3 separate regions of the Homo sapiens genome follow, and all the other regions are linked to region 1. Evidence: fine-mapped expression QTL. A gene starts in region 1. Each other region holds a variant in brackets. All regions are shown on one strand. Distances are from middle to middle.

Region 1 (8,267 bases):
AAAAAAAAAAAAAAAAAGATGTCCCATATCATTTATGAAAAATAAATAAACACAAGCTGAACTATCGTGAGATACCTTTTTCTCCCAGGTCAGAAGGGCAAAAGCCCTCCTGTCTGCTAACACACCATATGGGTGTGAAAACCAAGACTATTCCAGGTTGTCGGTGGAGCTGCAACAGGTACAAGCAAAATGGAAAATGCAGGCTGGGCATGGTGGCTCATGCCTGTAATCCCAGCACTTTGGGAGGCCAACGTGGGATGATCACTTGAACCCAAGAGTTCGAGACCAGCCTGGGCAACATAGCGAGACCCCATCTCTAAAATGACTGGCCTCTTGCACGATGTTACCACCGGGGAACCTGGTTAAACGGTACTTGGATCTCTCTGTAGGATTTCTTACAAGTGAATGTAAATCTACCATGATCTCAAAACATACAGTTTTACTTTTTTTTTTTTTTTTGAGATGGAGTCTCGCTCTGTCACCCAGGCTGGAGTGCAGTGGTGCGATCTCAGCTCACTGCAACCTCTGCCTCGTGGGTTCAAGCGATTCTCCTGCCTCAGCCTCCTGAGTAGCTGGGATTACAGGCGCGTGCCACCACGCCCTGCTAACTTTTGTATTTTCAGTAGAGATGGGGTTTCACCATCTTAGCAAGGCTGGTCTCAAACTCCCAACCTCAGGCGATCCACCTGCCTTGGCCTCTCAAAGTGCTGGGATTACAGGCGTGAGCCACCGCGCCCAGCCCAGTTTTACTTTTAAGAAAATGGACCCATGAATCCCACTTCTGGGTGGTTTTCCCACAGATGTAACTGCACTTGTACAATGAACCCTGGCCAAGGTTATTCACGGACTGGGTTGGAAGTAACCCTCAATCCATTAGTACGGGATTGTCAACTCCACACGTCCATGCAACTGAAGCGCTTTACATAGGATACAGAAAAATCTCTAGGAGGCCGGGCACCGGTGGCTCACACCTGTAATCCCAGCACTTTGGGAGGCCGAGGCAGGCTGATCATTTGAGGTCAGCAGTTCAAGATCAGCCTGGCCAACATGGCGAAACCCATCTCAAGGTGTTGACCGGGCTAGGCTCTTACTGGTAGCTCAAGGTCCTCTTCCAAGCTCTTGTGGTTGTGGCAGATTTCAGTTCCTCTTGGTTGCGGGACTGAAGTCTTCATTTCCTTGCTGCCAGCCAGAGGCTGTTCTCAGCTCCTAGAGGCCGCGTGTATTCCCTGCCCTGCAGTTCCCTCAAGGGCAGCAGTGGCGTATGTGTCCATGTGCTTCAAATCACCCTTTTTTTTTTTTTTTTTTTTTTTTTGAGACAGAGTCTCGCTCTGTCGCCCAGGATGGAGTGCAGTGGCGCGATCTTGGCTCGCTGCAAGCTCCGCCTCCCGGGTTCACGCCATTCTCCTGCCTCAGCCTCCCCAGTAGCTGGGACTACAGGTGCCCACCAAAACACCCGGCTAATTTTTTGTATTTTTAGTAGAGACGGGGTTTCACCGTGTTAGCCAGGATGGTCTCGATCTCCTGACCTTGTGATCCACCCGCCTCGGCCTCCCAAAGTGCTGGGATTACAGGCATGAGCCAGTGCGCCTGGCTCGCCCGGCTAATTTTTGTAGTTTTAGTAGAGACGGGGTTTCACCATGTTGGCCAGGCTGGTCTGGAGCTCCTGACTTCAGGTGATTCGCCAGCCTTGGCCTCCCAAAGTGCTGGGATTATAGGCATGAGCCACTGTGCCTGGCCCAAATCATCTTTACTGGCTCTTCTGCCACCAGCTGGAGACAACAGCCAGCAAGGAAACCGGGACCTTGGTCCCTGAACCACAAGTAACTGAATTCTGCCAACTAAGAGCTTGAAGGAGAGGATTCTTCTCCCAGCCCAGAGACTTTTTTTTTTTTTGAGACAGGGTCTTGCTCTGTTGCCCAGTAGCACAATCACGGCTCACTACAGCCTTGACCTCCTGGGCTCAAGCGATCCTCCCACCTCAGTCTCCCAAGTAGCTGGAACCACAGGTGCACGCCACCACGCTGGGCTAATTTTTTTATTTTCTGTAGAGATGGGGCATGAGCCACCATGCCTTGCCTGTGATACCTTTATTTATTTATTATTTATTTTTTGAGACAGAGTCTCGCTCTGTTGCCCAGGCTGGAGTGCAGTGGCACAATCTTGGCTCACTGCAACCTCCGTCTCCTGGGTTCAAGTGATTCTCCTGCCTCAGCCTCCTGAGTAGCTGGGACTACAGGCATGTGCCACCATGCCCAGCTAATTTTTGTATTTTTAGTAGAGATGAGGTTTTGCCATGTTGGCCAGGCTGGTCTCGAACTTTGACCTCAGGTGATCTGCCCGCCTCAGCCTCCCAAAATACCTTGAGTTTGGTTTTATGAAGCACACAACTGAGCTGACCCAGACTTCTGACCTACAAAGCTATGAGATAATAAATGGGTGCTGTTTTAAGCCCCTAAGCTGTGATAACTTGTTGCACTGCACATAAAATACAACATCCCAACAGATGCTCATGGGGATGGCAGACTCCCATCTCCCCTCCCTCCTTCTGTCCAGACATTTGCTTGCTCTGTAGAATAATAACAGCAGAATCTGTCGTCACTGTTTAATGCCAATACTCTCCCTTTTTATTGGTTTAGGAAGAGTCATTCAATGAGTGTAAGGTGATATAGGTGAGACCCAACCCTGCTGTCTGCTACAGAACATCTCCCTACAACAATGGATACTGTCACAGTAAGCTAGAGGGAATTTTGAACAACTCACCTCATTGGTCCCTCCTTGAGAGGCGTAAGTGAACATACACGTATATTTGTCCTAGAGAATGGAAGGAAAAAAAAGGTTTGGTAGAAGGAAATTTTTATTTTGTTTAAGAGACGGGGTCTTGCTGTCACCCAAGCTGGAGTGCAGGGGCACAATGACAGCTCACTGCAGCCTCGAACTCCCAGGTTTGAGTAATCCTCTTGCCTCAGCCTCTCAAGTAACTGAGACAATAGGTACGCAACCACCACACCCGACTAATTTTTTTTTTTTTTTTTGAAGCAGAGTCTTGTTCTGTCGCCCAGGCTGAAGTGGGATGATCTCAGCTCACTGCAACTTCTGCCTCCCGGGTTCAAACGATTCTCCTGCCTCAGCCTCCTGAGTACTTGGGATTACAGGCACCTGCTACCACACCTGGCTAATTTTTCGTATTTTTGTAGAGATGGGTTTTGCCATGGGACCTGGACAAGTGAAAACTTTTCTGAGCCTCTAGTTTCTCTCTGTTTCTCTTTTTTATGTGAAGCATTTTCTCATCTGTAACTTGGGCCTAACATATAAAGGACTTGGCATCACACCTAACTATAAGGAAGTAGTCAACAAACTGGCCTGGCACAGTGGCTCACGCCTGTAATCCCATCACTTTGGGAGGCCGAGGTGGGCGGGTCACCTGCGGTCAGGAGTTCAAGACCAGCCTGGCTAACATGGTGAAATCCCATCTGTACTAAAAATACAAAGATTAGTAGTCCCAGCTACTTGGGAGGCTGCGGCAGGAGAATGGCATGAACCTGGGAGGCAGAGGTTGCAGTGAGCCAAGATCGCGCCACTGCACTCCAGCCTGGGCGACAGAGTGAGGCTCCATCTCAAACAACAACAACAACAATTATCCGGGTGTGGTGGCACACGTCTGTAATCCCAGGTACTGGGGAGGCTGAGGCAGAAGAATTGCTTGAACCCAGAAGGCTAAGGATGCAGTGAGCCGAGATCCCGCCACTGCACGCAAGTCTAAAAAGAAATAGTCAAAAAACAGTAAAGATACTGTTATTACAGGCGGGGAAAGGGAGGCTGAGAGGGGAAAGGACTTTGCCGACAAGCTGAGTACAGGGCTGAGGGCCCGGCCTCACACCCTCGGTGAGGGGGGACCTTGTGCAATGGAAGGAAGGAGCACTTCCTCCCTCTTCGGAGCTGCAGCGACTGATTTCCTTCAGGCCCAGGAGGGCAGATGCCCTTTAGCCTCCTGCCGCTCCCATCACTGACCCCTCCCCACCTCTGCGTCTGGAGGGCAGGGGTGCCTGGACACTCCAGGCAGGCGACAGGTGACAGGTGATCACGCCCCCTCAACGCCGCCGGGGCCCACAAGGCCCCGCTCCCTATGAGTTCAGTCCTGCCCCAGTGATGACCCCGGCCTCACGGTCCCGCGCCCCCCACTCAGCCTCCGACCCTAACAATCCGCACCCCTTCTTCAGTACCCACCTCCGCGGTCCGCGCCCCCTCCTCGGGCCCCGCCCCCAATGCTCCGCGCCCCCTCCCCGGGCCTGCCAGCACTCAAATATCCGGGACGGCGGTGGCACGTACCCCCGGGCCCACGTTATGGGAGAAGGAATGCACGACGCCGCCGGGCCGCACGTCAAACGCCACCGTCGTGGGCTCGGACACCGCCTCCGCCGGCCTCAGCGCCACGGCCCCTAGGAGCAGCGCGGCCCACAAGCTCGCGCCGACGCCGTTCCACCCTCCGCTGGGCGCCGCCATGTTGGACTAGGGTCCTCAGGGCAGGGGCGGGTAGACGGGGCGCGGCGAGGGACACGTGGAGCGTCCGCCGGAGGCCACGTCGGCGTCGGCTGTCCACGTGACCCGGCACGCCCCGCCCTGTCCACCGCCCGGGGCCACCATCTTGGGGGCGGGACTTTGTCGAGGGGGCGGGACTTTTGCCGAGGGGGCGGGGCCGCCGAGGGGGCGGGGCCGCCGAGGGGGCGGCCTCGTACCCTAGGGACCCTGCGTAGCCCGGCGATCCTTGGAGGGTCCCTCAGGTGGTAATGGAGTTCGTTTTGGGGTCTCAGGGTCCCTCACCAGCCGTGTGACTGACTGCAGCTCTTTCAGTTAGGAGATGTACAGGGAGTGAGGGAAATCGAAGGTCACCATTAGGCGAACTTCTCATAATCGTTGCAGCCAAGATGTGTGTGCATCGATATTCAAAATTAGCAGAGGGAAAGTAGGATGAGAAGCAGGATGCTTGCTTTTGTTTCCCTCTTGTTGCCCAGGCTGGAGGGCAGTGGCGCGATCTCGGCTCACTGCACTCTCCGCCTCCCAGGTTCAAGTGATGCACCTGCCTCAGCCTCCCGAGTAGCTGGGACTACAGGTGTTCACCACCACCCCTGGCTAATTTTTGTATTTTTAGTAGAGACAGGTTTTCACCATGTTGGCCAGGCTGGTCTTGAGCTCCTGACCCCAAGTGATCCGCCTGCCTCGGCCTTCCAAAGTGCTGGGATTACAGGTGTGAGTCATCACGCTCGATCAGTCTGTGTATTTGTTAATAGGATTATGTGGGTGTTCACTTCCTGGCTTTGATAACCTGGCTTGTCCTAGGGGTTACAGACGATGTTCACATTAGGGGGAGTTGGATGAAGCGTATTAGGAAACCCTACAGTTTCTGCAGATTTTCTGGGAGGCAAAAATTATTTCAAAATAAAAAGTTAAAAAGAAAATAATCCCTACCTCAAGGAGTTGTTGGGAGGAGTAAGTGAGGGAATTAAGTTCCCACACCGGGACGAATGAACTGAGAATTATATATTGTAGCTATTGCTATCATTAGATCCCAGGTTTTCAACTAGAGAAGGAAGTCATTCTTTGGTTACAAATGGCTTAACATTTCAAGAAAACACCAGTGGCCAGGCCTGGGGGGTCAATAATTAAGCTGGTGTTTCTAGTCCTTCCCAACTGGCAAAAAACAGAATCCAGAGAGAAAACGTCATAGATGACTCCTAAGATGGGTTATAATTCACCCTTTGAGGAATTAAATCACTCTACTCCATAGCTACGGAGGGTGGTGAGCCCCAGGGAGGTGAGAAGGATCCCCGTGGAGGCTGACTCCTCTGCCAATGACAGAAGTCCAAGCCAGTTGCCTTTCTGCAGTGGCAGCCTGTTCTAAATTGGGATACCTGCTTGCGTTAGGAAATTTATTGGCCGGGCGTGATACTTCATGCCTGTAATTCCAACCCTTCGGGAGGCCAAGGTGGGTGGATTGCTTGACCTCAGGAGTTCTAGACCATTCTGGGCAACATAGTGAGACCCCATTCCTATATATATATTCATATATTCACATATGTGAATATATATATTCATATATTCACATATGTGAATATATATATTCATATATTCACATATGTGAATATATATATTCATATATTCACATATGTGAATATATATATTCATATATTCACATATGTGAATATATATTCATATATTCACATATGTGAATATATATTCATATATTCATATATACTTATATATTCATATATTCATATATACTTATATATTCATATATATGAATATATATTCATATATTCATATATATGAATATATATTCATATATTCATATATACTTATATATATATTCATATATTCATATATACTTATATATATTCATATATTCATATATATGAATATATATTCATATATATGAATATATATATTAATATATTCATATATATATACTTATATTCATATATTCATATATATACTTATATTCATATATTCATATATATACTTATATTCATATATTCATATATATACTTATATATATTCATATATTCATATATATACTTATATATATTCATATATTCACATATATACTTATATATATTCATATATTCATATATATACTTATATATATATATATTTAAAGATATTTTAAGATTATTTTTTAAAGATAGCCGGACATGGTGGTGGGCGCCTGTAATCCCAGCTACCTGGGAGGCTGGGGCAGGAGAATCTTTTGAACCCAGGAGGCATAGGTTACGGTGAGCTGAGATCATGCCACTGCACTCCAGCCTGGGTCCCAGAGCAAGACTCCGTCTTAATAAATAAAGAAATAAACAAACAAATCTCTTCCTCCATGCAGCTGTCTGTTCTGGACCCATGAGACACTGTCTCCATAAACTGGACAAGCACAGAGCAGCCCTGTTCCTTAGGTGAGTGACACAGCACGGTTCCACTGATGGAGTCCCCATTACCTTACCACGGTGTTCAACTTTCAGCCTGTCACCATGAAGGATTCGATGCATGGCCGAGCTCTGCGGCTAACAAGGAATTTCAGTTGTGAGCTGTTGGGAGTCTGCTACGGAACCCAGGCAGGTTGTGCGTATGCGTGTGCATGCGTGTGTGTGTTCTTTCCAGAAAGGTTTCGGCCCCAAGTTTCACCCACCCACCACAAATCATCACACTAAAAGGATTAAAAGAAAAAACAAGGCTGGCCCCAGTACTTTGGGAGGCAGATCACTTTGAGCTCAGGAGTTTAAAAACTGCCTGGGCAAGATGGCAAGACACCGTCCCTATAAAAAATACAAAAACATTAGCTGGGCATGATGGCTTGTGCCTGTAGTCCCACTTACTTGGGAGGCTGAGGCCAGAGGATGACTTGAGCCATGGAAGCAGAGGTTGCAGTGAGCTGAGATTACACCACTGCACTCCAGCCTGGGTGACAGAGCGAAACCCTGTGTCCAAAAAAAAAAAAAAAAAAAGGAAAGAAAGAAAAAGAAAAGAAAACAAGGCTGGACACAGTGGCTCTTGTAATCTCAACACTTTGGGAGGCCAAGGTGGGAGGATCACTTGAGCCCAGGAGGTCGAGGTTGCAGTAAGCTGTGATTATACCACTGCATTCCTGCCTGGGTGACAGAGGAGCAAACAACAAATTATTCCACGGATCCCACTAATCATGATATGAAATCTGTCAGTCCTAAAGGACAAGATTCGATCACACAAATATTAGATTATTTATTTATTTTTTTTTTTAAATTTGAGACAAGGTCTTGCTCTGTCGCCCAGGCTGAAATGCAGTGGTAGTTTCAGCTCCCTACAGCCTTAACCTCCTGGGCTCAAATGATCCTCCCACTCAGCCTCCCAAGTAGCTGGGATTACAAGGCATGCAACACTCACCCAGCTATTATTATTATTATTTTTTTGTAGTGATGGGGTTTATGCCATGTTGCTGTGGCTAGTCTCAAACTCCTGTGCTCAAATGATTCACCCACCTTGGCCTCCCAAAGTGCTGGCATTATAGGTGTGAGCCACTGTGCCTGGCCTCCTTTTTGTGTGTGTGTGTGTCTGTGTGAGACAGGGTCTCACTCTGTTGCCCAGGCTGGAGAAACCTCCTCAGCTCACTGCAACCTCCTCCTCCTCCAGGGCTCAAGTGATCCTCCCACTGCAGCCTCCTGAGTAGCTGGGACTACAGGCGTGCACCATTGCGCTGGGCTAATTCTTCAATTTTTAGTCGAGATGGGGTTTCACCATATCGCCCAGGC
Region 2 (8,000 bases), 34 kb after region 1:
CTAGATCTGAGGAGGTCGGGGGGATGGGGATCCAGAACACTCTCCTCCCCACAGTAGCTGACGGGTCCGGTGAACGGACCTGAGGATCTGCCTGAAACGCTGGAGGAAACAGCCCGTCCGAAGTTGGGGTCCCCCAGCCATCTGCCCCACGGAGTTCTCTGTTCTGGAAACTTGGAGAGAGGGCAGCTCTGGATCCACACGTCACCCACTCCCGAGGTGGCCTGGGAGCACCTGCCGCGCCTGTCCTCGCAGGGCCCCTGCCCGGTGCTTGTTCCTTACCGCGGCGTGGCCTCCAGTCTCAGGACCCACTCTGTGAGGCAGGGAGGCCAGCTCGCCACGCCGCATTCTAGGCACAGGTCCAGAGACACACAGGGAAGGCCTGTGGCTAGGCGGACCGGGCGGCAGGGCTGGGGCCTGGGGAGTGCCCCCGAGAGGGAGGTGAGTGACCTGCCCATCCACCCAGCTGCCTACCCGGCCCTTCCCCGCATCATCTAGTAGATTATCTGGTATGCAGCAGGCCCCCTTACCTTGCCCTGGCTGTCAGTCTGGAACTCAGCCAGTTTCAAGGCAATCTTGGGATTCTTGCTGCCTGCAAAAACCGAAGTGAGGTGAACACCAGGCAGGCATCACCCGTGTGTGCCGAGAGCCGGCACGGGGGGCCTGGGCTGTGGGGTGACGTCCACAGAGAGGTGTACAATTGGAGTGGGGGAGGCAGGAGAAGCCAGGTGTCCCACGGTCTGTCTGTAGGCACATCGTCCTGCTGGAACAGGCATGACACCCTCAGGTGGGGACCTTCTGACTTTGGGCCTGGATCGCATTCCCAACAGTGATGTGGCATCTGGCTTTCTCATTTAAAAACACGGGCCACACCCTGTGCTGAGAGCTGGGGCTTGTAGGGGCCGCAGATACCAGGAAGATGCCATCCCTGCCTTGGGAGAGCTCCAGAGCAGACGGTGAAGCCCGAGGCATCACAGTAAAACTGACAACGTGACAAGTGGGGTGTGTCCCATGCAAAACCAGGGAGCCCGTGTGACAGCCAGACCTGCGCCCTCCGGAGGCCAATGGCGACAGAATAAGGGACCCAAGAGGCTTCTGAAGAGTGGGACTTAGTTCAGGCTCCGAAAGAGGGCGCGGGCCACAGCAGAGCGGAGAATGCTTATTTTTTTGGCTAGACCTACGAGAAACTCAACTCCAGCCCTCGTGGCTCTGGCCTCCAGGGCAGGTGACATCTCTGAGCCTGTTTTCTCATCTGTCATACGAGGGGGAAAAGACTGACTTAGCTCATTTGCAGTGGGAGTTGGAAAGACCGTACAGGAAGCTTCCATCTAGCACGGCACAGAGCAGGCACTCGCGGAGTATGGGCAATAACGATGCTCTTATATGGTCCCATGGGGGTTGCAAACCCAAGGCCTGAACGCGGAATCTGGGCTGCACGTGTGTTCTGTTTGGCTCCAGAGATATTTTTAAATAATTGGAAAGATGTTTAAGAATTGGGAGTGGCCGGGCGTGTGGCTCACGTCTGTAATCTCAGCATTTTGGGAGGCCGAGGCGAGAGGACCACTTGAGGCCAGGAGTTCGAAACCAGCCTGGGCAACAAAGCAAGACTCCATCTCTACAGAAAATTTAAATATTAGCTGGGCATGGTGGCACACACCTGTAGTCCCAGCTACCTGGGAGGCAGAGGTGGGAGGATCACTTGAGCCTAGGAGTTGGAGGCTGCAGTGAGCTGTGATTGCACCACTGTACTCCTGCCTGAGCCACAAGGTGAAACCTTGTCTCAAAAACAAACAAACAAACAAACAAACACCACTGTAGTGTGAGGGCCAAATCCAGCCTGCCTTCTGTTTTTGTATGGCTGAAAATCCTTCTTTCGTTCTGAGACGGTTAAGAAAACAAACAAACAAAACAAGAGTGACATTTTCGCTAATATGAAAATCATATGTATCTCAAGGTGAATTATTTGTAATCCAAACTTCAGTCAAGTTTCCTTGGCACATGGCTACGCCCATTCCTGCACGTGCCACTTCTGTGCTCCAGCAGCAGGGTGGGGCAGTTGCAAGAGAGCCTGCCTTCGTCTGGCCCTGGAAGCCTGAGATACCTGTGCCCTCATCCCTTCCAGAGACAGCTTGCTCACTTCTGAGCAATATGATCCGGTGGCCATGGTAAGCCAGGAGAAAGGGGCGGCCCCTGCAGGGCAGAAGCCTTCCTTCTACACCCCCATAGATGCCCAGAGCACACACATGCAGCTCAGAGGGCCTGGGGGACAGTGCACCTCACCAGCCATGCCCCAGGGGCCTCAGATCCCCGGCCCAGCCCCTCACATGTACCGGGCACTCACCTGTCCTGGGGTACCGATACGAGTCCGTCTTCCTTTCTTCTAGCGCAGGAGAGGGGACGTGAATGACCTCCACCTCGGACTCATCGACTTCCTCATACAGGATTCGCAGCGTCTTGAGGCCCTCTGAACCTTGGGTGGGGTGGTGGAAAAACTGCTGAGGGTGCCAGAGGCAGAGTCCCTGCCATCAGCACCCCCCGCCCCCTGCAGCACCGGGGCCTGAAGATGGGCACCGAGGGCTCTGAAACCAGAACCCCGGCTCTGCCATTCGCTAGACCTTATGCCAGTCCCAACTCTCTGGGCTTCAGTTTCCTCCCCTGTGCAGTGGGAAGCAGAGCAGGGCTACTCCCAGCATGAACTGGCATGGGAAGTGGCCACGTGGGGTGTAACGGGCTGAACTGTGTCCCCTCTTAGGGCAACAGCGATGTCTACAGTCGTTAAGGAACTCTCTAGGTGTTGGTATTGACAGACTGTGGAGGTGGTTTGAGGTGAAAGGAGTAAGGCGCAGGAAGGACACAGCCTGTGATTCCAGGAGGAAAAGCACGCCCGGGAGCATGTTGAAAAATGGAAGGGACCTACCTTCCCAGGAGGCTGTGGGGCACCACCAGTACCCAGTGAAGCGGTCGAACTCTTCCTGTATGACGAAGGTGGCCACACCCGCAGACTTGGGGTCATCCAGGACATTGGATAAACCTAGGGGGAGG[G/C]ACGGAGAGCATCAACAAGGGGTGAGCAGCCTGCTAACACTGGGGACAGCCAGGGGCTCAAGGAGAGCATGAGAGAGAGGGAGAGAGAAGGAGGGAAGGAAAGGGAAGGAGAGGGGGAGGGAGAGGGAGGGAGAGGGAGGGAGAGCTCGGAGCCGACTGCTTTCAAGCAGGGTTGCTCCACCCCACACTGTGGACACTGGGGCCCTCTTGGTCTCTGGGGTGGGGCCGTCCAGGGCACAGCAGGGTGCTGAGCAGTGTCCCTGGCCTCCACTCACCCCATGGCAAGCCAGGAGCACCCCCGCCCAAGTGTGCCGTCTAAAAACGTCTCTGGACATCGCCGAGTGGCCAGGTTTGGAAAGTGGGGCCCGGGCTTATGGGACGGAGAGGCAGCGATCAGTGACTTGAAACCAAGACAAGGAAGGATGGGGTCACTTCTGATGAGCAAGGGAGTGGAGAGAACACGCAGGAAGCAGGTGAGATGTGGCCTTGACTTGATGGGGCTGGACAGGCAGAGTGGAGGGGAAGGTGTGCAGGGGCAGAAATGCCCAGGGGCACCTGGAAGAGGGTCCAGAGCACCGTGGCTGGGCTGACGCCTGCAGCAGAAAACCACAGAGCGGCAGGGTGCGGTAGCTCATGCCTGTAATCTCAGGACCTTGGGAGGCCGAGGCAGGTAGATCATTTGAGGTCAGGAGCTCAAGAGCAGCCTGGCCAACATGGGGAAACCTCGTCACAACTAAAAATACAAAAAAAAAAAAAAAATTAGCCAGGCGTGGTGGCGGGCACCTGTAATCCCAGCTACTCGGGAGGCTGAGGCAGGAGAATCACTTGAACCCAAGAGGCGGAAGTTGCAGTGAGCCGAGATCATACCACTGCAGTCCACCTGGGCACTCCCGCCTGCGCTCCCGCCTGGGCAACTGCACTCCCACATGGGTGAGACTCTCTCAAAAAAAAAAAAAAGAAAGAAAGAAAGAAAGAAAACTACAGAGCGGCAGGGACGCCAGGACCTCCCGGGAGACATGGTAGGCTACAGAAGGTATGCACGGGAGGGTGGCTTGTGAGGGGTGTGTGCAGGAAGACCCTGGCTGTGGGGGCAATGGGGCCTTTCTGGAAGCTGGCCAGGTGGCTATGGTGGCCGTGCACAGGAGGGGCTGGCCCCACCTTGGTGGCAGAAGGTCAGCCGCCGCTCCTCGCCTGTCTCGATGTTGGCCACCCACAGGTCGCTGTTATTGATGAAGGAGAAGAAGGCAGGGTCGGCAGGGCAGATTTTGGGGTCCATCCGGGGCCCTGAGCACTGGGTCTTGATTTCCAGCGGTTTCATAGGGGACACCTGAGGACAGAGACGCCCAGCTCAGGGGGAGGGGCCCTCCACGCCACCCCCGCACACAGCCAGGGCCAGGGCTCACCATGAAGCCGTTCTTGCCGCCGTCGCGGCAGTGGAAGAGGCTGTTGCTGGCCTGGAAGAGGAAGAGGCCACTCTCGCTGTGGAAGTCGTAGGAGGTGATGCCGAAGACCCCCAGGCGTTTCCGCTCCCTCAGCAGCTCCTCCTCCCGAGAGTAGACCCCATGGTGGGGCGTGGCCTGGAAACATACAGGGGACAGGGGGCAGCGTCAGTGGGCAAAGAGGATCTCCCGCTGGCCAGGGCAGAGATCCTCGGGCTGGGGCATTCCCAGGGAATCTGACTTCGGGCCTCGCCAGAGAGAACTTCCTGTACTGGGCAGAATTGGCTGCCGGAGCCCTTGACACAGTGGGTGGCCAAAGATTGCCAGCGAACCTGGCCCTGCAGGACTGGCTGAGTGTCCTAGGAGGTGGCAGGGGAGACTCTGGGGCCAGAAGCCTCCTCACTTCCTGAGTTCCCTCCCCACAGACCCTCTCCATAGCAGATGGGGGCCCCTGGGAGGGGCTGTCCCTGCCCCACACCACCGGAGTACTCTCTCCGGGTCCCTAGTGCCATTCTTACAGACTCCCCACCCTCCTACCCTATTCACAATCCCTTCCCATCAAGAGCTTTCAATTTCGTAATCCCAGCACTTTGGGAGGCCGAGGTGGGCAGATCACGAGGTCAGAAATTCGAGACCAGCCTGGCCAATATGGTGAAACCCCGTCTCTACTAAAAATACAAAAATTAGCCGGGTGTGGTGGCACGCGCCTGTAGTCCCAGCTACTTGGGACGCTGAGGCAGAAGAATCACTTGAACCGGGAGGCAGAGGTTGCAGTGAGCCGAGATTGCGCCACTGCACTATAGCCTGAGTGACAGAGTGAGACTTTGTCTCAAAAAAAAAAGCAGAATCAAAAGCAAAATTACCCCTACACTCTGTGGAAAGCAGTGTAAACACAAGGACACTGGCTTGGGGACTCAGAGACAGGCCAAAGTGAGGGCCAGTGAACCAGTGGTGGAGAAAGTGGGAGTGTCACGATCTCAGCCACTGTTAGATATCATTATTGTTACATTGTTATGTTTATGTTGTTACTATGTTATAATGTTATGTTATTTTTATTGCTATATTGTTACTATTTTAGAGACTGGGATTCGCTGTCTCCCAGGCTGGAGTGCAATGGTGAGATCACGGCTCACTGTAGCCTTGCCCTCCTGGGTTCAAGAGATCCTCCCATCTCAGCCTACCAATTAGCTGGAACTACAAGGCGAGTGCCACCAGGCCTGGCTAATTTTATTTTTTGTAGAGACAGGCTCTTGCTGTGTTCCCCAGTCTGGTCTCAAATTCTTGGGCTCAAGCAATCCTCTTGCCTCGGCCTCCCAATCATCAAACACAAAAACACGCCAATCAATGCAAAAGGCATTTTTCCTCCCTCAACTATCCCCAGAGAGCCAACACTGGATGAGATTGATGATTAACCAGTCTCTCTAAAAGGGCCTCAAGCCAAGTTAATTCCCAATCTTTGGTGATGCCGTTAAAAGGAAGAGATGCTTTTGGTAAGAGTTTCTCTGTCGCTTGAGTACAGGTGGTCAGGGGGAGGAGGGAAGGCTCACCCGCCAGAGTCCACAGGACGGAGGGTTTGTGGGAACTCACAGCCGGTGGGGCAGAGAGGTGACCGAAGGCATGTATGGCCTGTGGGGCTGGCCTTTGCCACCTCCTCGCCCACGGTAGGGCCCACGCCTAATAGCACAGCTTACCTGGAAATGATCCAGCATCTGCTTCCAGGACAGGAGCAGCAGAGCCTCTTTCCGGACCTTCTTGGGAATCTCAGAGTAGAGGAGGGAGTTCTCTCGGCTGCCATATGGCATTCCTAAAGGGAGAAAGGAAACACCCAGAACGGGTACCCTGGCTCAGGATGGGGAGACGCCCTCAGCCTGCAGCTGGGCCCAGCTGGTTCCCTCTGCTTCTAGAACATTCTGCCAGGCCGCCGGCGGGACAGCCCTCCCCGGAAAGCTATGGATCCTGGGTTTGCTTAAGTAGGCAGTAGGGCCTTCCACCTGAGATATTTCTGCTGAATCTCACGGCCTGAATTACCGAAGAAACAGCACACAAGAGGCTGGGCATGGTGGCTCTTGTTTGTAATCCCAGCACTTTGGGAGGCCGAGGCGAGAGGACTGCCTGAGCCCAGGAGTTTGAGACCAGCCTGGGCAACATAGCAAGGCCCCGTCTCAAAAAAAAAAAAAAGAATAAAATAAAAGAAAAAAGAAAGAAAAATAAATCGCACACAAGAGAACAAGAAGGGCAGTCAGAAACAAACATCCAACTCTCAACAGGTTGGGTTCGGCTCTCCAAGGCCCTTTATCAAGGCTTTTGCAGACGACAAGAATTTAATATAGGATTAGAGGGAGGGCAAAACCATCAAAAAGGAATGAGGGCCAGGCGACATGGCTCACGCCTGTCATCCCAGCACTTTGGGAGGCCGAGGCAAGCAGATGACTTGAGGTCAGGAGTTCGAGACCAGACTGGACAACATGGTGAAACCCCATCTCTACTAAAAACACAAAAATTAGCCGGGCGTGGTGGCACGCGCCTGTAATCCCAGCTACTCGTCAGGCTGAGGCAGGAGAATCACTTGAACCTGGGAGGCAGAGGTTGCAGTGAGCCGAGATTGCGCCACTGTAGTCCAGCCTGGGTAACAGAGCAAGATTTTGTCTCAAAAAAGGGAATGGGGAAGCGTGCACCTGGTCCAGTATTTCCCAACCTCGCCCCTAATTACATTCGGGCCTGGACCATCCTCCGGGGTGGGGCTGTCCTGACCACTGCGAGGCGCTGAGCAGCATCCCTGTCCTCCGCCCACTCCATGCCAGGGGCACCCCACAGTCGTGACAACCACACATATCCCCAGGCATCTCCCAGTGTCCCCTGCAGGGGCAGAATCACCCCGACCTCAAACCACTGATTTAATCGAAGCTTCTGTAGAAAATGACGGTAGTGAGAGCTGCCAAGCGAGGGTTTTGGGTGGATTACATGAGGTAAGAAACGTAAAGCTCTCGGCACAATGTGTGTGACCCTCTGTGAAATCAGCGTATTTCATCAGTAAGCCGCGGCTTTCCACCTACGCATGTCTCTGGGCTTGGGATGGGTCTTACTGCGGAAGGCGCAATCAGGTCCTTAGTGGCAAATAAAATAACTGTGTATTTTCCAAATGGTCATGTCTTAGATCTGCTGGATGACAGTACAATTGTCATTAGAAAAGGGAATGGCAGAAGCAGGATGGTAACCCCTGGGAAGCCTCGGTTTCCCCTCTCCATGCGACACCACTGAAAAACCGGGACAGGGCTCCTCCAAGCATAAAGCTGTCCAGTAGCCCACAAACGTGACATGACTAACGACAAGTCACAGACAGCCCGGTGCCCTGGCCCCTCCTTGCTCTACTTTCAACCCTGAGTTTCTCCAGGACGAAGCCTCGGATTGGTGCTGTCCTGTCCTCTTTTCAGGACCTCCTCATACTCGCTTTTTTTTTTTTTTTTTTTTTTTTTTTCTGAGACACAGTCTCGCTCTGTCGCCCAGACTGGAGTGCAGTGGCAC
Region 3 (8,267 bases), 26 kb before region 1:
TGGCGTGGGGCTCTGCTCTGGGACCAGCACCCCCATCCCCCATGTGGACTCTAGTGGACTCTGCCCCCTTTAACTGTAGGGCCGCAGGTGCTCAGGCCAGATTCCAGAACCCTGAGGGCATTCCAGGCGGTGGGCAGCTGGGCCAGCCGTGCGGAGGTGGGCATGACTGTAGCTTCTAGCTAAACCAGGCATCGGTCCAGGCATCGGTGGCGGGGAGCCAGGCCTAGGCCAGCCCGGGCCCACCCAGACTGGCCCCTAATGAGCTCCCAAGTGGCCTGTGGGGACTTGGCCTCAGTTTTGCCAGCTGTGAACTGGGACCGTCGCTGCTAAGGTAATTGGCAGGTGATCTGAAGGACACCTGCCGCCTCCTGGCCTTTTCTGTGAAGTCGAACTAGGCCCATTTCCTGGGATGGGAAACTAAGGCCTAGAAAGAGGCCAATGCTTCCAATGTTTGTCCAGGGAAGTGGGGACAGAGGCAGGACAGAATCTGTTTTCTCTGCATCCTCACATTTCCCAGCACCTTCTCTATGGAGGGGGGAAGGGCTGGTGGAGGAGCAGCCCCAGGTGTAAACAGGCCGCCAGAGTTTATTTCCTGAGCCAGTCCCAGCTCAGCTGGAGGCGATGAACGCCTTGGGAGGCCCCAGGGGGGCCAGCCCAGTGGTGGCGGAGCTTGGACCAATCTAGGTTTGAGCTCTGCCACCCGCATGATATCTTGAACCAGTTTTTCAATTCTGCGGAGCCTCAGTTTCCTCATCTGTAAAACAGGAGTGGGTCGTAACTCCCCAAGTTGAGGGCTGCTGGGGGATCAGATGCAGGAATACAGGCCCTGCTCATAACCTGCCTGACTCTCGCTGTGGCTCTGCCCCAGTCACACTGGCCTCCTCCTGTTTCTCCAACACCCCAGGCGAGGTCCTCTCTCAGGGCCTTTGCATGGGCTGTGCCCTCTGCCACTACGGCAGGTCCGAGGGCGCCAACTTTGAAACATAACAAGCTCCCTGGATGGGCCGGACCCAGGACCTGCACAGGCAAGGGCTGGGAGGGGCAGAGGAGGGGCCGCTCAGGGACGCTGTACCTATGGAAACCGTGAACAAAGGGCTGTCTCCAGCCACACAAACACCTGGGTGAATCGGGCACTGGCCAGAGGCTGGAGCAGCCTGGGATACAGGTGGTGGGTGAGTGCCTGGACCCCTGCAGGGAATATGGGGCCGGGGGGGGGACTTGAACCCTGCTCCAATGGTGGGGTGGCTCTGCAGACGGGTGCAGGTCTGAGGCCCCGCGGTACGGCCCCTCCCACTGTGTGGCCTTGGACCGACGGTCAGGTGCCCCCAGAGCCTCAGTTTCCTCATCCCCGTTCCCCCAGGGGTCAGCCCAGGTGGGTGAGGGGTCTTTTGATTGCTTGACAATTCAGTATGGTGGGTTCCGGAGGCCTCAGTGTCCCTGTCTGTCCAATGGGGCCACGAAAGGGTGCCTTGAGGACAAAACTCCAGCCGTTGACAGGGGAACACTCCTCCCAGAGAGACGTCAACGCTAAAAAATGACTCACACTTGCCCAGGTACAGCTCAGGTGTTACAGACGGGGAGCAGGGCAAGGAGGCAGAGCGAGAGGCAGGAACGGCCCAGTTCCACAGCATGCCTGCCCCTTCCCAGCATCTCCCGACACCCCTCAGCAGATGACCTCCCTGGAATCACACCCGCTCGAGCTTTGACGCAGGGACCTCTGGCAGAGTTCTTGGGATCTTGTAAATCCCCAGCTTCTAGGCCTCAGTTTCCCCATCTGTCCAATGGGGCTGGTCATCTCCTTTTTCTTGTGGGGCTGAGATAACTGTGGGGAGGGAGGGTGCTTTGAGGGGTGGGGGAGATTCAACAAGATATTGTTAAAAGCCCGAGGAGGGGATTACAGGACACAGTACTTCTAGAAGCTTCCTAAGGCTTCGATCCTTCCCCTCTGGGGTGGGCTCTGGGAGAGACGAGACTTGAACCCCAAATGTGCCATTGACTAGGATGAGGAAAGGATTGCACTAGGTTAAAGGCTGGGTTCAAATTCTGATTCTGCCACATCACTGCTTTATAAACAGGCAAGCTCCTGACCCTCTGTGACTCAGTTTCCTTATAACCAAAAACTTGCAGGTCCATCTAGAGAATTTCCCAGCCTGGGCAACATGGTGAAACCCTGTCTCTACTTAAAACAAAGAAAAAAAAATTAGCCAGGTGTGGTGTCGCAGGCCTGTAGTCCCAGCCACTCTGGAGGCTGAGGTGGGAGGATCACCTGAGCCCAGGGAGGTTGAGGCTGCAGTGAGCCGAGCTCATGCCACTGCACTTCAGCCTGGGCGACAGGAGTGAAACCCTGTCTCAAAGAAAAAGAAGAGAATTGGCTGGGCGCCGTGGCTCACGCCTGTAATCCCAGCACTTTGGGAGGCTGAGGTGGCCGGATCACCTGAGGTCAGGAATTCGAGACCAGCCTGGCCAAGAGGGCAAAACCCTGTCTCTACTAAAAATACAAAAATGAGGCGGGCGTGGTGGTGGGTGCCTGTAATCCAGCTACTCAGGAGGCTGAGGCAGGAGAAACACTTAAACCCAAGAGGCAGAGGTTGCAGTGAGCCGAGATTGCACCACTGCTCTCCAGCCTGGGTTGACAGAGTGTGAGACTCCATCTCAAAAAAAAAAAAAAAATTAAAAATATACACATAAAATAAATAAAATAGATGGGGGATCTGGGAGGGCTTCCTGAGGAGGGGCCATGTAAACCCAGACCTGGATGACAAGAAGGAAACAGCCATGTGGAGACCTGGGAGAAGAGCAGCTCAGGCAGAGGGCACAGGTTGTGTAAAGGCCCTGGGGCAAGATGGCGCCTGGCATGGTAGAGGAGCAGCAAGGAGGCCCGTGGGGCTGGAGCAGTGAGGAGGAGGAGAGAGGGAGGAGGGGAGGGCAGGGAGGGGACAGGGCAGGGTGCGCAGGATCTTATGGGCTGCCAGGAATACTTGGCTTTGACCCCAAGGGAGGTGGGAGCCATGGAGGGTGGTGGGCAGGGGAAGGATGGAACCTGACTCAGGTACTCACAGGCACCCATTGGCTGCTACAGGGAGGACAGACGGGGGGCATGGGGATAGATGGTGCTGAGGGACGAGGGGACCAGGATGGAGGCTGTGGGGGAGATAAGAAGTGGGTTGCGTTAGGCCAGGCAGGGTGGCTCATGTAATCCCAGCACTTTGGGAGGCTGAGGCAAGTGGATCACCTGAGGTCAGGAGTTGGAGACCAGCCTGACCAACATGGTGAAACCCCATCTCTACTAAAAATACAAAAATTACCCAGGCATGGTGGCACGTGTCTGTAATACCAGCTACTCAGGAAGCTGAGGCAGGAGAATCACCTGAACCCAGGAGGCGGAGGTTGCAGTGAGCCGAGATCACGCCGCTGCACTCCAGCCTGGGCAACAGAGTGAGACTCTGTCTCAAAAAAAAAAAAAAAGTGGGTTGCATTGGGACACATTTAGGGGCTGGATGCACCTCCTGCCAGGTGATCCTAGGCTTCTCTGCACTCTAATAATTTATTGCTTGGGCTGAGGCAAGCCTGTCCCCTCCTCTGCAGAGTCATGGGCTGTGGGTAGCTGATAATTCATGTTTGGCCCTCGAACCCTTTCTCCAGTGGAAATCTGGCCACAGTGGAAAGTGTCCAGGCTCCCCGCCACAACCCAGCAGGCAGCTGGCCCCTGCCCATCCATGGGGTGGTCCTGAGGGTGCTGGGGAACCCAGTTTGAGAACAACTGATGTCACCCCCAACTTGGGCCAACAGATTCCCCTCTCTCTTTTGCCATAACTAAAATGGACACTGGCGAAGTATGGCGGCTCATGCCTGTAATCCTAGCATTCTGGGAGGCCGAAGCAGGAGGATCGCTTGAGCCCAGGAGGAGA[C/A]CAGCCTGGCCAACATGGCAAAACCCCATCTCTACTAAAAATACAAAACTTAGCCAGGCATGGTGGCAGGTGCCTGTAATCCCAGCTATTTGGGAGGCTGAGGCAGGAGAATTGCTTGAACTGGAGAGGTGGAGGTTGCAGTGGGCTGAGATCGCGCAACAGAGCGAGACTCCATCTCAAAAAATAAATAAATAATAAAATTGGCCGTTCACGGTGGCTTATGCCTGTAATCCCAGCACTTTGGGTGGCCGAGGCGGGTGGATCACCTGAGGTCAGGAATTCGAGACCAGCCTGACCAACATGGAGAAAACCCCGTCTCTACTAAAAATACAAAATTAACCGGGCGTGGTGGCGCATGCCTGTAATCCCAGCTACTTGGGAGGCTGAGGCAGGAGAATCACTTGAACCCAGGAGGCAGAGGTTGCAGTGAGCTGAGATCATGCCATTGCACTCCAGCCTGGGCAACAAGAGTGAAACTCCGTCTCAAAAAAATAAAATAAAAATAAAATAAAATGGACACTGGCCAAGTGTGGCAGCTCACGCCTGCAATCCCAGCACTTTGGGAGGTCAAGGCGGGAGGATCACTTGAGCCCAGGAGTTCGAGACTAGCCTGGGCAACATAGCAAGACGCCATGTCTACCAAAAAAAAAAAAAAAAAATTAACCAGGCATGGTGGCACATACCTGTAGTCCCAGCTACTCAGGAGGCTGAGGTGGGAGGATCACTTGAGCCCAGGAGGTCGAGGCTATAGTGAGCTATAATGGTACCACTGCACTCCAGCCTGGGCAACAGAGTAAGACCTTGTCTTAAAAAAAAAATGAATAAATAAAAATAAAATGGACACCGGCTTGCAAGTCCTGAGTCATGGATTTTTTTTTTTTTTTTTTTTTTTTTGAGATAGAGTCTCACTCTGTTTCTCAGGCTGGAATGAAGTGGAGCTCACTGCAACCTCTGCCCCCCAGGTTCATGCGAGTCTCGTGACGCAGCCTCCCGAGTAGCTGGGATTACAGGCGTGTGCCACACACGGCTAATTTTTGTATTTTTAGTAGAGATGGGGTTTCACCATGTTGGCCAGGCTGGTCTTGGACTCCCGACCTAAGGTGATCTGCCCGCCTCGACCTCCCAAAGTGCTGGGATTACAGGCATGAGCCACCACGCCCAGCCTGTGAGTCATGGGTCTTAAAGGGCTTGGTGCAGTGGGACCCTGGGAGTCGGTGGGATGAGGCCTGGGATCACTGGCCTCGGCGGGAAGAGGCCTGAGGCCCCCCCTGGGCCCCCGGACTGAGTGCAGCCGGGGCTGAGACAAGACAGATGGAGCGGCTGGCGTGCACCTGCAGAGCAGATCCATCAATTATTGACACTCTGTGAGGTGCATGAAGAATTCATGGGACAGGGGTGGGGACGGCAGGGACTTGTGACATAATTGCAGCCAGCTCACCAGAGCCACCTCCTGTGTTTTCAGGAATTTTGCCATCTGGTAGTTAAACGCAGCCATTATTTAACGTGGGAGAATATAAACTTATAGTTAAGGCTGGGCGTGGTGGCTCCCACCTGTAATCCCAGCAGTTTGGGAGGCCGAGGCGAGTAGATCACTTGAGGCCGGGAGTTAGAGACCAGCCTGGCCGACATGGCCAAACCCCGTCTCTACTAAAAATACACAAATTTGTATTTTTGTACAAATACAAATACACCAGCTGGGTGTGGTGGCATGCACCTGTAGTCCTAGCTACTTGGGAGGCTGAGGCTGAGGCAGGAGAATCGCTTGAATCCGGGAGGCAGAGGTTGCAGTGAGCTGAGATTTGGCCACTGCACTCCAGCCTGGGAGACAGAGCAAGACTCCATCTCAAAATACATACAAACATACATACATACATAAACTTATAGTTAAATAAAGTACATTTAAGCCAGGGGTGGTAGCTCACACCTGTAGTCCCAGCACTTTGGGAGGCTGAGGCAGGAGGATCCGTCTCAAAAAAAAAAAAAAAAAGGAATATAGGGAGCAGGGGAAGAGTCAAGGGAGCCAGGGAGTTGGTGCCTGGTCACCCATTTTGCAGATGGGAAAGCTGCCCCCATGCATGGGGCCTGCCAAGGGTCACAGCAGGGAGACCTCAGAGCTGTGGACGGACCTGGACAGAGGCTGTGGACAGGGCTGAGGCCTCCTGGCTGTTCCTGTAACAAGCGTGACACAGCCCTGCCCCAGGGCCTTTGCACAGGCTGTGCCCTTTGCCTGGAGCATCTTCCCGCAGACCCTGTCATTGCAGGCCCAGTTCAACTGGCCCAGCCTCTCCCTAGAGAGGCCCTCCTGGTTACCCTGAACTTCATCCCCCACCCCCGTGGCCCATATCTCTCTTCCTGAAATTAACTTGTTTGTTTCTATTTATTGGTTACCGGCACCTCCTCCTTCCAGCAGGGGAACAGTTTTTGCACCCAGGCTGGAGTGCAGTGGAACAATCTCGACTCCCTGCAACCTCCGCCTCCCAGGTTCAAGCGGTTCTCCTGCCTCAGTCTCCCGAGTAGCTGGAATTACAGGTGCTCGCCACCACGCCCGGCCGACTTTTTTTTTTTTTTTCAGTTGAGTCCGGGTCTCACTATGTTGGCCAGGCTAGTCTTGAACTCCTGGCCTCAATTGATCCTCCTCCCTCTGCCTCCCAAACTGCTGGGATTACAGTTATGAGCCACCGCACCTGGCCAATCATTGTTTTAAAGTGTACAATTTATAACCAGAAAGTTATGTGACCATCATAAATTTCTGGAATCTCTAATTCCAGAACATTCCATTACCACTCACCCCAAAAAAACCTGGTTCCCAATTTAGCAATCGCTTTCCATTTTCCCCTCTTCCAGTTTCCAGCACCCGCGAGTCCGCTTTCTGCCCTTGTGGACAGGCCTCTCCTGAACATTTTTTTTTTTTTGAGATGGAGTCTCGCTCTGTCACCCAGGCTGGAGTACAGTGACGTGATCTTGGCTCACTGCAAGCTCCGCCTCCCGGGTTCACGCCATTCTCCTGCCTCAGCCTCCCGAGTAGCCAGGATTACAGGTGCCCGCCACCGCGCCCCGCTAATTTTTTGTATTTTTAGTAGAGACGGGGTTTCACCGTGTTAGCCAGGATGGTCTCGATCTCCTGACCTTGTGATCCGCCCGCCTCGGCCTCCCAAAGTGCTGGGATTGCAGGCGTGAGCCGGTGCCCGGCCCTTCCTGAACATTTCATAGAAGTGGGATCACACACTTTGTGGCCTTGTGTGTCTGGCTTCTGTCACTGGGAATGATGTCCTCAAGGTGCATCCACGCTGGAGCTTGTGTGTGAGCCTCGTTCCTTTTATGGCTAGAGAACATTCCATTGTTTGGACCGATCTCATTTTGTTTATTCATTCACCCATTAATGGACATACGGACATTTGAGTTGCTTCCACTTGCAGGCTACCCTGGGTCACGCCGCTGTAAACTGTGACGTGCAAAACAAGTGTTTGCGTGGTGTATGCTTGTGTTTCTCTTGGGTAGATCCCCCAAAGTGGAATTGCTGGGTCCTATGGTAACTGTGTGTTTAGATGTCTGAGGAGCCGTCGGACTGGGTTTTTTTGTTTTGTTTTTTGTTTTTTGTGACGGAGTCTCGCTCTATCACCCAGGCTGGAGACCTCGGCTCACTGTCACTGCAACCTCCACCTCCCGGGTTCAAATGATCCTCCTGCCTCAGCCTCCAGAGTAGCTGGGATTACAGGTGCCTGCCACCATGCCCAGCTAATTTTTTTTGTATTTTTAGTAGAGATAAGGTTTCACCATGTTGGCCAGGCTGATCTCAACTCTTCACCTCAGGTGATCTGCCCACCTCAGCTTCCCAAAGTGCTGGGATTACAGGTGTGAGTCAGTGCACCTGGCTTTTTTTTTTTTTTTTTTTTTTTTCCTTTTGAGACAGGGTTTTGCTCTGTTGCTCAGGCTGGAGTGCAGTGGTGTGATCATAGCTCACTGCAGCCTTGACCTCGTGGGCTCAAGCGATTCTCCCCCTCTCAGCCTCCCGAGTACCTGGGACCACAGACCCGTGCCACCATGCCTGGCTAATTAAAAAAAATTTTTTTTTGTAGAGATGGGATCTCGCTATGTTGCCCAGGCTGGTCTTGAACTTCCCAGTTCAAGCAATCCTCCTGCCTTGGCCTCTTAAAGTGTTGGGATTACAGGTGTGAGCCACCTTGCCTGGCCCAGATGATTTTGTAATGAGGAGGCAGCTTGGGGTCTAGAAAGCCAGGGCCTTAGCAAGGCAGGGATGGGATCTGTTTTGATGCCTGCTGTATCCCCAGTGCCTCTGTGGTCTCTTCTGCAAAGCAGGCAACCTGGCCAGTACCAGGTGGGAATGACGAATAGGCACAG

Evidence for each region.
Region 2: its variant is fine-mapped to the expression of MYDGF in whole blood (TOPMed, PIP 0.98).
Region 3: its variant is fine-mapped to the expression of MYDGF in whole blood (TOPMed, PIP above 0.99).

Annotation. Positions count from the first base shown.
Region 1 is chr19:4,665,835-4,674,101 of GRCh38, forward strand. MYDGF (myeloid derived growth factor) reads right to left here and starts at 4,508. Exons shown (of 6, transcript NM_019107.4): 1 at 4,327-4,508; 2 at 2,761-2,811. The coding sequence starts at 4,500. RefSeq lists a silencer at 4,508-4,897.
Region 2 is chr19:4,699,689-4,707,688 of GRCh38, forward strand. DPP9 (dipeptidyl peptidase 9) reads right to left here. Exons shown (of 22, transcript NM_139159.5): 5 at 6,170-6,282; 6 at 4,443-4,616; 7 at 4,198-4,366; 8 at 2,915-3,028; 9 at 2,339-2,467; 10 at 528-589. Among named protein-coding and RNA genes, the nearest start is that of DPP9, 20 kb to the right of the region's middle. RefSeq lists enhancers at 4,020-5,219, 4,242-4,742, 4,743-5,243. The variant G/C (reference allele first, on the strand shown) is at 3,040.
Region 3 is chr19:4,639,829-4,648,095 of GRCh38, forward strand. All of the region lies in intron 1 of TNFAIP8L1 (TNF alpha induced protein 8 like 1), which reads left to right. Among named protein-coding and RNA genes, the nearest start is that of TNFAIP8L1, 4.4 kb to the left of the region's middle. RefSeq lists an enhancer at 1-688. The variant C/A (reference allele first, on the strand shown) is at 3,909.